Linked DNA regions of Homo sapiens. The protein of the gene in region 1 purifies or fractionates together with the protein of each later gene. This does not show direct contact. Each region holds a gene or a part of one and is shown on either strand. Other genes may lie near its edges.

Region 1 (3,718 bases):
GGCACAAACTCCATGGGCCCATTTACATTTCTGAGCTACTGTTTAAAAATTGAGGACTCCCATAACCTTTTTCAAGTTCAATAATTTGATAAAGCTACTCATAGAACTCAGCAAATACTGTAGTTATATTTACCAGTTTATTATAAAAGATACAACCCAGGAAAAGTCAAATGGCAGACATGTATAGAACAAAGAAAGGTGGGGAAAGATGACACACATAGACAATCCAGATAAATAACTGTGATTAATAAAATTCTTCATTGTTTGTGTTCTCCAGGAACAGTTTATCGAAAGAAACACCCTTCCCATTATGACTTAGATGGTGCTCTCTTTTCTTATCTATCACATAGCAGACACCGACTCTGCACATTTTTTTTCTTATTGAAAAATCAGTTGAATTTGACTTCAGTGGTGAAAATAAAATACTTCTTAAGGAAACTTTACTTAAGTTTGTCTTTTTCCCCAAGGCTTCTGAACTTTACAAACCCATTTTATGTAACTCCAAAGAACAGGCTGACTTCAGTGTGAAACATTCTCTGATCTAAAATCTGATTTTTTCACCCTGCATTTGCCATTCCCCTTCCACCTCCTTTCTAATCTTGTTTGTTCCTCCTTAGGAAAGGAAGCCTTTGTCTGCCTGAACTTTGCAATTCTTAAAGACCTTGTAGTTGGTACTTCTGTTGCAATATTTCTTTGGAAGTCAAAATTTTTATGTAAATTCAACCTTGTTTTATTTTCAAAGTCTATAAACTGCCTCAAAACAAGAACAACTTCATCTTCAGTAAGACCCTCCCAATCCCCTTTCATTTTAACATCAACTGCATCCACCTGTGGGTCCCCAGCTTTCCAGGGCTCTGTAGCTTCTCCCAGGATAAAGACTTCTATGGCTGGGGTGAGCAGGCTGGGATATCTACAGAGGAGACTCCCCAGAAAAAACTAACTGGGCCTTTAATAAAATTTTTTTGCAGGCTCAATATTAGCCTTAGCTCTGAGCCAGTGGGCTAAAGCTTTAATTTCCATGTCAAGAGTTATTCACTTGGTCTTTGAAACTTAAGTGTTTAGCCGGGCGCAGTGGCTCACGCCTGTAATCCCAACACTTTGGGAGGCTGAGGCGGGTGGATCACAAGGTCAGGAGATCAAGACCATCCTGGCTAACATGGTGAAACGTTGTCTCTACTAAAAATACAAAAAAAAAAATTAGTCGGGCGTGGTGGCGGGCACTTGTAGTCCCTGCTACTGGGTAGGCTGAGGCAGGAGAATGGTGTGAACCCGGGAGGTGGACCTTGCAGTGAGCTGAGATCGCGCCACTGCACTCCAGCCTGGCTACAGAGCAAGACTCCGTCTCAAAAAAAAATAAACTTAAGTGTTTAAAAAATCCAGCGTTTCTTGGCTGGGCGCAGTGGCTTACGCCTGTAATCCCAGCACTTTGGGAGGCCGAGGCGGGCAGATCACCTGAGGTCAGGAGTTTGAGACCAGCCTGACCAACATGCAGAAACCCCGTCTCTACTAAAAATACAAAATTAACCAGGTGTGGTGGTGCATGCCTGTAATCCCAGCTACTCAAGAGACTGAGGCAGGAGAATAGTTTGAACCCAGGAGGCGGAAGCTGCAGTAAGCCGAGATCATGACATTGCACTCCAGCCTGGGCAATAAGAGAGAAATTCCATTTCAAAAAATAAAAAAAAAATCCAGCAGTTTCTCAAACACAGTGTTGACATAAGAGAAGAAAATTTTAGGGTGCTTATATTTCATATCTCAATAAGAAAAGCAAAAGTGTCCATTCCTTTCAAACAATAAATGCATTATTTTATTATTTCCATTAAAAGTCATATAGTAAACAATTAGTCATATGGAAACATGTCTAGGAGGTACCAAGTTTCAAATAAAATTTAGCTTAAAACTAGGAAATCAAGATAACAGGATTTGAACAGAGATATTCACTGTCACAAATTTACCCTGCAAAAAGAGGAGCTGATGCTTTCATGAATCTATGTAACTCAGCAATTATCTACCACATTTTCTTGTGAAAATGTACTCATTTTCTACAGCCAAAATGGGAAAGACATTTCCCCTATTCTTTTTCTTGGTAGCATTCTTAAACAGCCTTGAAATTTTATTGGAAATTACCAAGCCATAAAAAATACACCTGACACTGATGAAAGAAATCATAGATGGCACAAACAAATGGAAACAAATCCCACGCTCATGGATAAGTAGAATCAATATTGTGAAAATGACCATACTGCCAAAAGCAATCTACAAATTCAGTGCAATCCTTATCAAAATACCACCATAATTCTTCACAGAATTAAAAAAAATTCTAAAATTCATGTGGAACAAAAAAGAGCCTGCGTAGCCAAAACAAGGCTAAGCAAAAAGAACAAATCTGGAGGCATAACATTACCTGATTTCAAACTACACTATAAGGCCATAGTCACCAAAACAGCATGTTACTGGTTTAAAAATAGGCACATAGACCAATGGAACAGAATAGAGAACCCAGAAATAAACCCAAATACTTACAGCCAACTGATCTTCAGCAAAGCAAACAAAAACATAAAGTGGGGAAAGGACACCCTTTTCTACAAATGGTACTGGGATAATTGGCTAGCCATATGTAGGAGAATGAAACTGGATCCTCATCTCTCATCTTATACAAAAATCAACTCAAGATGGATTAAGGACTTAAACCTAAGATCGGAAACTATAAAAATTATAAAACATAACATTGGAAAAACCCTTCTAGACATTAGATTAGGCAAGGATTTCATGACCAAGAACTCAAAAGCAAATGCAATAAAAACAAAGATAAATATCAGGGACCTAATTAAATTAAATAGTTTTTACACGGCAAAAAGAACAGTCAGCAGAGTAAACAGACAACACATAGAGTGAGAAAAAATCTTCACAATCTATACGTCTGACAAAGGACTAATATCTAGAGTCTACAACAAACCCAAACAAATCAGTACAAAACAAACAATCCCATCAAAAAGTGGACTAAGGATATGAATAAACAATTCTCAAAAGAAGGTATACAAATGGCCAACAAACATATGAAAAAATCCTCAACATCACTAATGATCAGGGAAATGCAAATCAAAACCACAATGCGATACCACCTTACTCCTGCAAGAATGGCCATGATCAAAAAATCAAGAAACAGTAGATGTTGGCATGGACGTGGTGAACAGGGAACACTTCTACATTGCTGGTGGGAATGTAAACTAGAAAAGCCACTATGGAAAACACTGTGGAGATTCCTTAAAGAACTAAAAGTAGGATTACCATTTGATCCAGCAATCCCACAATTGGGTATCTACCCAGAGGAAAAGAAGTCATTATTCGAAAAATATACTTGCACACGCATGTTCATAGTGGCACATTTCACAATAGCAAAATCATGGAACCAACCCAAATCCTCATCAATCAATGAATGGATAAAGAAACTGTGGTATATATATACAATGGAATACTACACAGCCATAAAAAATGAATTAACAGCATTTGCAGTAACCTGGATGAGACTAGAGACTATTATTCTAAGCAAAGTATCTCAGGAGTTGAAAACCAAACATGGTATGTTCTGTTATGTGGGAGCTAAGCTATAAGGATGCAAAGGCATAAGAATGATACAATGGACTTTGGGGATTTGAGGGGAAGAGTGGAAGGGGGACGAGGGATAAAAGACTACAAATTTGGTGCAGTGTATAATGCT
Region 2 (4,155 bases), on another chromosome or scaffold:
TTGAGGTCAGCCTTACACATCCATAGTTCCCAAAGCTGAAAACAGGCCTGCCTCCAACGGTACCTGCTAACATCTGGGGAGCTTTTCAGCTTACAGAGCACCCTGTATGTGTTTGTCTTAGTTCAGGCCACCATCTCCAGCTTACCAGGCTCTAGAACCTTCTCCACACTTTGCCAACAGGGTTCGTTTGCAGAATTGAAACCTTAGTTAAGGTTTGTTGAGGTTGTTGTTGTTGTTGTTGTTTTTACAATTGGCTATTCCCACCCACATTCCCTTGAGACATAAATAGAAAAAAAAAAGAGGTTTCCTGAGTAGGACAAGACATTTGAGCTGCATCCACTTGATCCTTGAAAAGGAAATCTAAGAGGTTGTAACTATCACTTTTTCTAGCCTATATAAGGTAGGTCAGTAAGGTAGCAAAAGCACATCTGTTGTTTTGCTCCTTCAACTCTTTTTCCTGATTCTTCCTGGGGGAAAACCTAAAACGGTGAGTAACTGGTGGACCCATCAGACCCCAGACTCTTCTTCACTGCATGCATTCATATTAGGCTCAGGTGCTTAGACTCCTGTTTTCCCATGGCTCTGACATCTGGAAGGATTTTAATCTCTGGGAGATGGGCTTTTCATCCATCTGCTTCCCACCTTTCAGGACAGGTAGCATGTCTTCTTCCACAGAATGTCTGCAAGCAGCCCAAACTGTATCCTTTCCCACGTGGAATTTGCAACAGTGCATCTCTCGGACTGCTGTAGGAAAATGCCAGTGCATTTGTAACATGGTTTACGGCTGCCTATGCAAATGACTGATTATGTCAGTATAATTTTTATAAGAAAACAATTGAATCCTTCTTTGGGTCATGTTTTTTTTTTTCATTTTTGGCATATATTCAAAAGAAGGCTCTGAGACAAAAAGGGCTGGGGTCTTTTTGGTATCTGGTTTTAATTTGGATATTCTGTCCCGTCACTTAATACAAAACCATGCTTATCACATTTTAAAAATTCTAGACAGGCCTGGCTTGGTGGCTTATGCCTGTAATCCCAGCAGTTTGTGAGGCCAAGGCAGGCAGATCACATGAGGTCAGGAGCTCGAGACCAGGCTGGCAAACATGGCAAAACCCCATCTCTACTAAAAACACAAAAATCAGCCAGGCCTGGTAGTGCGCACCTGTAATCCCAGCTACTCGGAAGGCTGAGGCAGGAGAATCACTTGAGCCCAGGAGGTGGAGGTTGCAGTGAGCCAAGATTGTGCCACTGCACTCCAGCCTGGGTGACAGAGTGAGACTCCATCTCAAAAAAAAAAAAAAAAAAAATCTAGACACACATACAGTTTCAGTGGGCCTGGGAAGATGTGTTTCCCCTGGATGTGCACGTTCCTGTTTGTGGCTTATCGCCTCTCGTTTATTCTGTGTGAGTAGGTAGAAAATGAGCATCACGGACGTGCTCAGTGCTGATGACATTGCAGCAGCGCTCCAGGAATGCCAAGGTAGAGGGGACGTGGGGCGGGGGTGGGATTTCCTCACAGCTTTGCCCCTCCAGCGAGGCAACACAAAATCAAAATGTAGGCCAGGCGGCCAGACGCAGTGGCTCACGCCTGTAATCCTAGCACTTTGGGAGGCTGAGGTGGGTGGATCACGAGGTCAGGAGTTTGAGACCAGCCTGGCCAAGATGGTGAAACCCCATCTCTAATAAAAATACAAAAAAATTAGCCAGGCGTGGTGGTGGGCACCTGTAATCCCAGCTACTCGGGAGGCTGAGGCTGAGAATTGCTTGAACCCGGCCTTTTTTGTAGACTCTGTCTACAAAAAAAAAAAAAATGTAGACCAGGCATGGTGGCTCACATCCGTAATCCCAACACTTTTCGGAGGCCAAGGTGAGAGGACTGTTTGAGCCCAGGAGTTTGAGACCAGCCTGGGCAACATAACAAGACTCCATCTCTACAACATAACAATAAAAATAAAAACTAGCGGGGCATGGTGGCATGTGCCTGTGGTCCCAGCTACTCTGGAAACTAAGGTAGGAGGATCACTCAAGCCCAGGAGGTTGAGGCTGTGGTGAGCTATGATCGCTACACTGCACTCCAGCCTGGACGACAGAGTGAGACTCTGTCTCTAAATAAATAAATAAATAAATAAATAAATAAGTAAATAAGAGCTTGGCTGGAAAATTCATGGAATCAGAGAAGAAAACTACTATTTATTAGATAACTAAAATTATAGAGATCTGGGATCTGAGCACACGATTACACTTCTGTAAGACAAAAGAAACCTACTAAACATGAAAGCAAGAAATCACTGAAGGGCCAGGTGTGGTGCTCACACCTGTAATCCCAGCACTTTGGGAGGCCAAGGCCGGTGCATCACTTGAGGTCAGGAGTTCAAGACCAACCTGGCCAGCCTGACAAAACCCTGTCTCTATTAAAAATACAAAAATGAGCTGGGCATGGGGGTGCATGCCTGTAATCCCAGCTACTCGGGAGGCTGAGGCAGGAGAATCAGTTGAACCTGGGAGGCAGAGGTTGCAGTGAGCCGAGATCACGCCACTGCACTCCAGCCTGGCGACAGAGTGAGACTCTGTCTCAAAAAAAAAAAAAAAAGAAAGAAAGAAATCGCCAAAGGCCATTTAGCCTGTTGAAATCCAGTGATTGCATTTCCCCCTACCAATTAGACCAGGGATGTTGGGGGCTCGGCCACACAGCCTGTAAAGTGGGCCAGGGGGAGGGGGAGGCACAGAGGAGAGGAGGAGGGAAAAGGAAAATGGACAAAACCAAGTGGAGGAGGGAAGACCGGGGCGGAGGGGACATGGGATGCCATCACAGAGCCATCAAGTCTTGGCTGTCCCAAAATCTTAGACCAGTTGAGCATCCCCGTAGCTCAGGGATATTGTTGAAGTGTTTTTAATCATCTGTGTTTTCAGTACCTTGGCCCCAACATAGAATGTGATCCAATGAGTGTCAGAATAACCCATTCTCTGTTCTTCAGACCCAGACACTTTTGAACCCCAAAAATTCTTCCAGACGTCAGGCCTCTCCAAGATGTCAGCCAGTCAGGTGAAGGATGTTTTCCGGTTCATAGACAACGACCAGAGCGGGTATCTGGATGAAGAAGAGCTTAAGTAAGCTTTGTCCTGAGGCTGTCTGGTACCTGGCACTGCTGGGTGGGCCTGGGGTGCAGTGGGGGCCAGGTTGCTCAGTATTTCTTCAATGGCCAGCCTTGGTGTTGGTCATTCGGCCAAGCATCATTAAAGCAAAGGACATGAGTCAGTTGACCGCACATCTACCCATGCAAAGCCCTCAACATGGGCAGTGAAGACTACAGGTGCAAAGATTCTTTTTTTTTTTTGAGACAGGGCCTCACTGTCACCCAGGCTGGAGTGCAGTGGGGTGATCTCAGCTCCCTGCAGCCTCCGCCTTCCAAACTCAAGTGATTCTCATGCCTCAGTCTCCCAAGTGGCTGGGATTACAGGTGCTTGCCACCACATCCAGCTAATTTTCATATTTAGAGTAGAGATGGGGTTTCACCATGTTGCCAGGCTGGTCTCAAACTCCTGACTTCAAGTGATCCTCCTGCCTTGGCCTCCCAAAGTGCTGGGATTACAGGTGTGAGCCACCGTGCCCAGCCGCAAAGATTCTTTCATGTAAGGGATTTCCTTTGGCAAATGGACTTTAAAAAACTAAAAACTTGGCTAAGCGCGGTGGCTCACGCCTGTAATTCCAGCTACTCAGAAGACTGAAGCACAAGAATTGCTTGAAATCAGGAGGCAGAGGTTGCAGTGAGCCCAGATCGTGCAGCTGCACTCCAGCCTGGGTGACAGAGACTCTGTCTCAAATAAATAAATAAATAAATAAAAATTAAAACCACTAAAAACTTAAAAATGGGCCAGGCACTGTGGCTCACACCTACAATCCCAGCCCTTTGGGAGGCTGAGGTGGGTGGATTGCTTGAGTGAGCCCAGGATTTCAAGACCAGTCTGGGCAACATGACAAAACCTTGTCTCTACAAAAAAAAAATACAAATGTTAGTGGGGCATGGGGGGGTGCACCTTTAGTCCCAGCTACTCGGGAGGTTGAGGCAGAAGGATTGATTGAGCCCAGGAAGTTGAGGCTGCAGTGAGCCATGATGGTATCACTGCATTCCAGCCTGGGTGACAGAGCAAGACCCT
Region 3 (4,114 bases), on another chromosome or scaffold:
TTCTCTCTCTTTTCATCCTTTCTGTTTCTCCTTTCCTTTCCTTTCTTTTTCTTTTTGAGATGGAGTTTCACTCTTCTCACTGCAACCTCCGCCTCCCGGGTTTAAGCGATTCTCCTGCCTTAGCCTCCAGAGTAGCCAGGATTACGGGAGCCTGCCACCACGCCCGGCTAATTTTCGTATTTGTAGTAGAGACGGGGTTTCGCCATGTTGATTCACGCGCCTCGGCCTCCCAAAGTGCTGGGATTACAGGCATGAGCCACCGCACCTGGCCGGAAATACTTATTTCTTTTTCAGGCTCTGATATTTGGCCCCAGAAGTCGTGTGTGTGTGTGTGTGTGTGTGTGTGTGTGACTATGTGTTGAGGTTGGTAGGGACAGGGTCTTTGAGGTGGGCCATGAAGGCTGTTGTCTTGGTTCCCTTACTCCAGTGGGTGGGGGAGGTGGGCAACGTGGATCAAAACGAATCCAGGCCAAGCTGGAGGCCTAGGGAGCCTGCGCGCTGAACCTCAAACGTCTGGAGTCCTTTGCCTTCTGAATCCTTTGACCAAGAGAGGCTGATAACATGCAACCACGCACTACGGCTCTGGTTGCAGCCAGACTTGGGTTTAGTTCTATTGTTTACCAGCTGCGTGACATTGGGTAAGAGGCTTAACCTCTTCGGTCCCAAATTCCTCCTTATTAAGATGGGGACAACAACAGAACCCATCTCCCAGGACTGATACCAAGCATTTGGCCACAGTTGCTGCTAGGTGAGGGACAGTCCTGTTTAATACACAACGGAATGTTGATGATCATGTATTGACCACTTTCTGAGCCAGACAATTTGTGTGCCTTTATCTCATTGGAACACCACCATTTCTCTGGATAGCAGATACTATTACCATATTATAAGGTATATAGGCACTTAGCACTAATGGCACAGAGTAAGTGCTCACCAAAAGCTGTTAGTGAGGGCACTTTTGTCATATAGAAGAAAAAAGGAGCATGGAAAAGGCGCTTTGCAAGGTGTAAGGTTCCGCACAAGTTTTTGCTGTAATTGTTACGTCGCCCTTTGTGGTCGTGATCCTTTATTTATTCTTTCTGAGCCACTACGATGGTCCCCTAGTTACCGTGGCCATGGAAACGCGGCCCGCCGTCCCGGATTGGACGGTTCGCGGGTTCCCCCTGGAGGCCACCTTCTGGTCCTGCTGCGGAACGACGGGCGGGCCTTGGAGGCGGGGAGAGGAGCGTCGGGAGTTGTAGGCGATGGGCGTGGCTGCTGCGGAGCGGTGCACGCCGGGAGTTGCAGTTCCCGGGCGAGGCAGTTGACTGCCCCACAACGAGCTCGGGCCTCACCCGGATGGCGGCTGCGACGCGCGGCTGCCGGCCCTGGGGCTCGCTCCTCGGGCTGCTCGGGCTGGTCTCGGCCGCGGCCGCCGCCTGGGACCTGGCTTCCCTGCGCTGCACCTTGGGCGCCTTTTGCGAATGCGACTTCCGGCCCGACTTGCCGGGTGAGGCGCCAGGGAGCCCGGAGCGAGGGGCGGGCGGACGCGGGCAGACGCGGGAGCGCTGGGAGCCCTGGGAGCCCGGCTGGCGCCGGCCAGAGAAGCTGAGGACCCAGAGGGTGGGACCGAGGGGCGGGGCCCGCAGACTTGGGAGGGTGGAGGGTACCCGTTGAGGTCCAGGAGGCCCTGCCAACCTGGAGAGAGGCCTCAGCCAGCAGAACCCTTGGTGGAAGTTCTTGGGCCTCCCCGGAATGGCCTGGCCGTCAAAGGAGAAGTGCAGTGCGCCTTGGGGATGGGCGGGGTCTGCGGCTGACCCCGTTGACAGCTCGCATTTAGAGCTGAGTGCAATCTAGAGGACCGCCTGGTGGGGGCGCTGCCGAGCTGAATCAGGCCCGAAGGTGGCTCTTTTCCGCCACAGACCCCAAGGTTTGCGTGCCATGTGCATAGGCAGCTTGGACAAACGTAAGGACACAGGAGTCCCAGACCAGGTTCCAGACATGATGTTCTCCTTGAACCTCTGCCTCGGTGGGATGTGTCCTCACCATCCTCCTGTGGCCCTAGGTCTGGAGTGTGACCTGGCTCAGCACCTGGCCGGCCAGCATCTGGCCAAGGCGCTGGTGGTGAAGGCGCTGAAGGCCTTTGTGCGGGACCCAGCCCCCACCAAGCCGCTGGTCCTCTCCCTGCACGGCTGGACCGGCACCGGCAAATCCTATGTCAGCTCCCTGCTGGCGCACTACCTCTTCCAGGGCGGCCTCCGCAGCCCCCGCGTGCACCACTTTTCTCCCGTCCTCCACTTCCCCCACCCCAGCCACATCGAGCGCTACAAGGTAGGCTGGATGCGTCCTTGACCACTGTTCTCACCATGGGGTGCCACCCTAGGGAGTAAGTCCTGAGCCCAGACAGGGGAGTCACCTGCTCCAGGCCACACACGGCTGCAGCCCCAGCCCTCAGGACCCATCCTGCACAGAACTTGGGAAGGTGTCATTCTACCTGGCAGGGAGTACTTTGATTCCTTGGGGCAGTAAGGAACCCTGGCAGTACCTACATGCCAGGGTTGTTGTGAGGGACATGAGATTATACCATTGCAGATATCATTTATGGAGCACCTATGTTTGTCAGATAATCTGCACTGTTGTCTTGCTGGAAATCAGCCCCAATTTGTGGCTCAGAGGAAGCATCAGGAAATATTGGCTCTTACTACTACTGTTGTTGATTGCAGGGTACCCACCAGGCTGATCAGTTTCAGCCGTCAACACTGCTGTGTAGTTTCAGGGAGCAGGAAGGAGCCTTCCCCTTTTATAGAAAGCAGCAAGTGTCGTGGAAGGAGCTCTGAACAGGGAAGTGGGAGGCTTGGGTTTGAGTCCCTGTTCTGACTGGCTGTGTGACTTTGGGCAAGTCTCTGCCCCAATCTGGGATACAGTTTCACCATCAGTCTCACTAAGAGGTTGGTGCTCTCTGGAAGACCACATCCTTCCCTAGAAAGGAGATTAGTTTTGGTTTGGGAAGAGGTCTGGTGTTGGGGGAGTTTCTCCAGCTCCCCTGGAACTCCTGTCTCTCCCCTACAGAAGGATCTGAAGAGCTGGGTCCAAGGGAACCTCACTGCCTGTGGCCGCTCCCTCTTCCTCTTCGATGAGATGGACAAGATGCCCCCAGGCCTGATGGAAGTCCTGCGGCCTTTCCTGGGCTCCTCCTGGGTGGTATACGGGACCAATTACCGCAAAGCCATCTTCATCTTCATCAGGTGGGGCCCGGCTTTGCAGTGGGCACAGTGGGGGGGCCACTTCTCAGAGGTTCAGCTCTACAGCCTTAGCCTGTGCTCCCAGCAGAATCCAGTTCCCCATGGGCTTAGCTGGGCTTTCCCAGTGCCCTCCGCCACTCTCAGAGATGACATTGTCATTCCGCCTGGTTGATTTCCCTTTGGACATTCTCAGCAAATTCTGGGCTCAGTCTTTTTGATCGCCACTTCTTTGTGGAAGCCCTGCCAGGTCAAGAAGTTTTCCCTCTTTTGTGGTGAGGAGGACACAGGCCTGGGAAAAATAGGAACAGAGTTCTTGTCCTTTAGTCCCAGCTCTCAGAATCCTCGCTGTGTTTCCTCAGGCAGCATGGCTCCGCCTCTCTGAGCCTCTGTCTCTGCTTCTGAACAGCGGGGCCAATAATGATGCCCCGATGCCTTCCTGGAAGTTCAGTGAGGGAAAGTCAGTTGAGGGACACAAAAGTGTTTTGTAAACTATAAAGTACGTGGCATGTGTAGGTGAATTACAGGGGCCATGGATGTGGACACCATGGAGGGGGAAGTGGAGCGTTTTCAGTGGAGTTGGCTCCTCCCCGCACTGAGCCATGTTCCTATGTCAGGTGGCAGCGGGGAAGCGAGGGTCCAATCCTGCCCTGCGCTAGTCCTCATCTGAGTCTCAGCCTGGGTCCCCCATGGTTTTAGCAACACGGGTGGCAAGCAGATCAACCAGGTGGCATTGGAGGCGTGGCGCAGCCGGCGGGACCGCGAGGAGATCCTCCTGCAGGAGCTGGAGCCGGTCATCTCCCGCGCGGTGCTGGACAACCCGCACCGTGAGTCTGGCTCAGCAGCCCCCTCCCGGGCAGCTTCACCCCACACCCAGGGGCCAGGCTCTCCCGGGG

Evidence for each region.
Region 2: the proteins of ZNF708 (region 1) and OCM2 purify together in Homo sapiens (affinity purification with mass spectrometry; one large-scale study listed by BioGRID and IntAct). This does not show direct contact.
Region 3: the proteins of ZNF708 (region 1) and TOR2A purify together in Homo sapiens (affinity purification with mass spectrometry, with the first as the bait; one large-scale study listed by BioGRID). This does not show direct contact.

What each region holds. Positions count from the first base shown.
Region 1 is NC_000019.10:21,322,898-21,326,615, forward strand, and holds part of ZNF708 (zinc finger protein 708), read right to left. Parts: intron 1-3,718. UniProt on the Homo sapiens protein: May be involved in transcriptional regulation.
Region 2 is NC_000007.14:97,987,369-97,991,523, reverse strand, and holds the start of OCM2 (oncomodulin-2), read left to right. Parts: upstream 1-1,327; 5' UTR 1,328-1,419; coding exon 1,420-1,480; intron 1,481-2,975; coding exon 2,976-3,108; intron 3,109-4,155.
Region 3 is NC_000009.12:127,732,495-127,736,608, reverse strand, and holds the start of TOR2A (prosalusin isoform a precursor), read left to right. Parts: upstream 1-1,314; 5' UTR 1,315-1,338; coding exon 1,339-1,489; intron 1,490-2,044; coding exon 2,045-2,310; intron 2,311-3,048; coding exon 3,049-3,224; coding exon of another isoform or gene 3,225-3,393; exon of another isoform or gene 3,394-3,835; coding exon of another isoform or gene 3,836-3,917; coding exon 3,918-4,045; exon of another isoform or gene 4,046-4,114. UniProt on the Homo sapiens protein: Salusins -alpha and -beta may be endocrine and/or paracrine factors able to increase intracellular calcium concentrations and induce cell mitogenesis. Salusins may also be potent hypotensive peptides.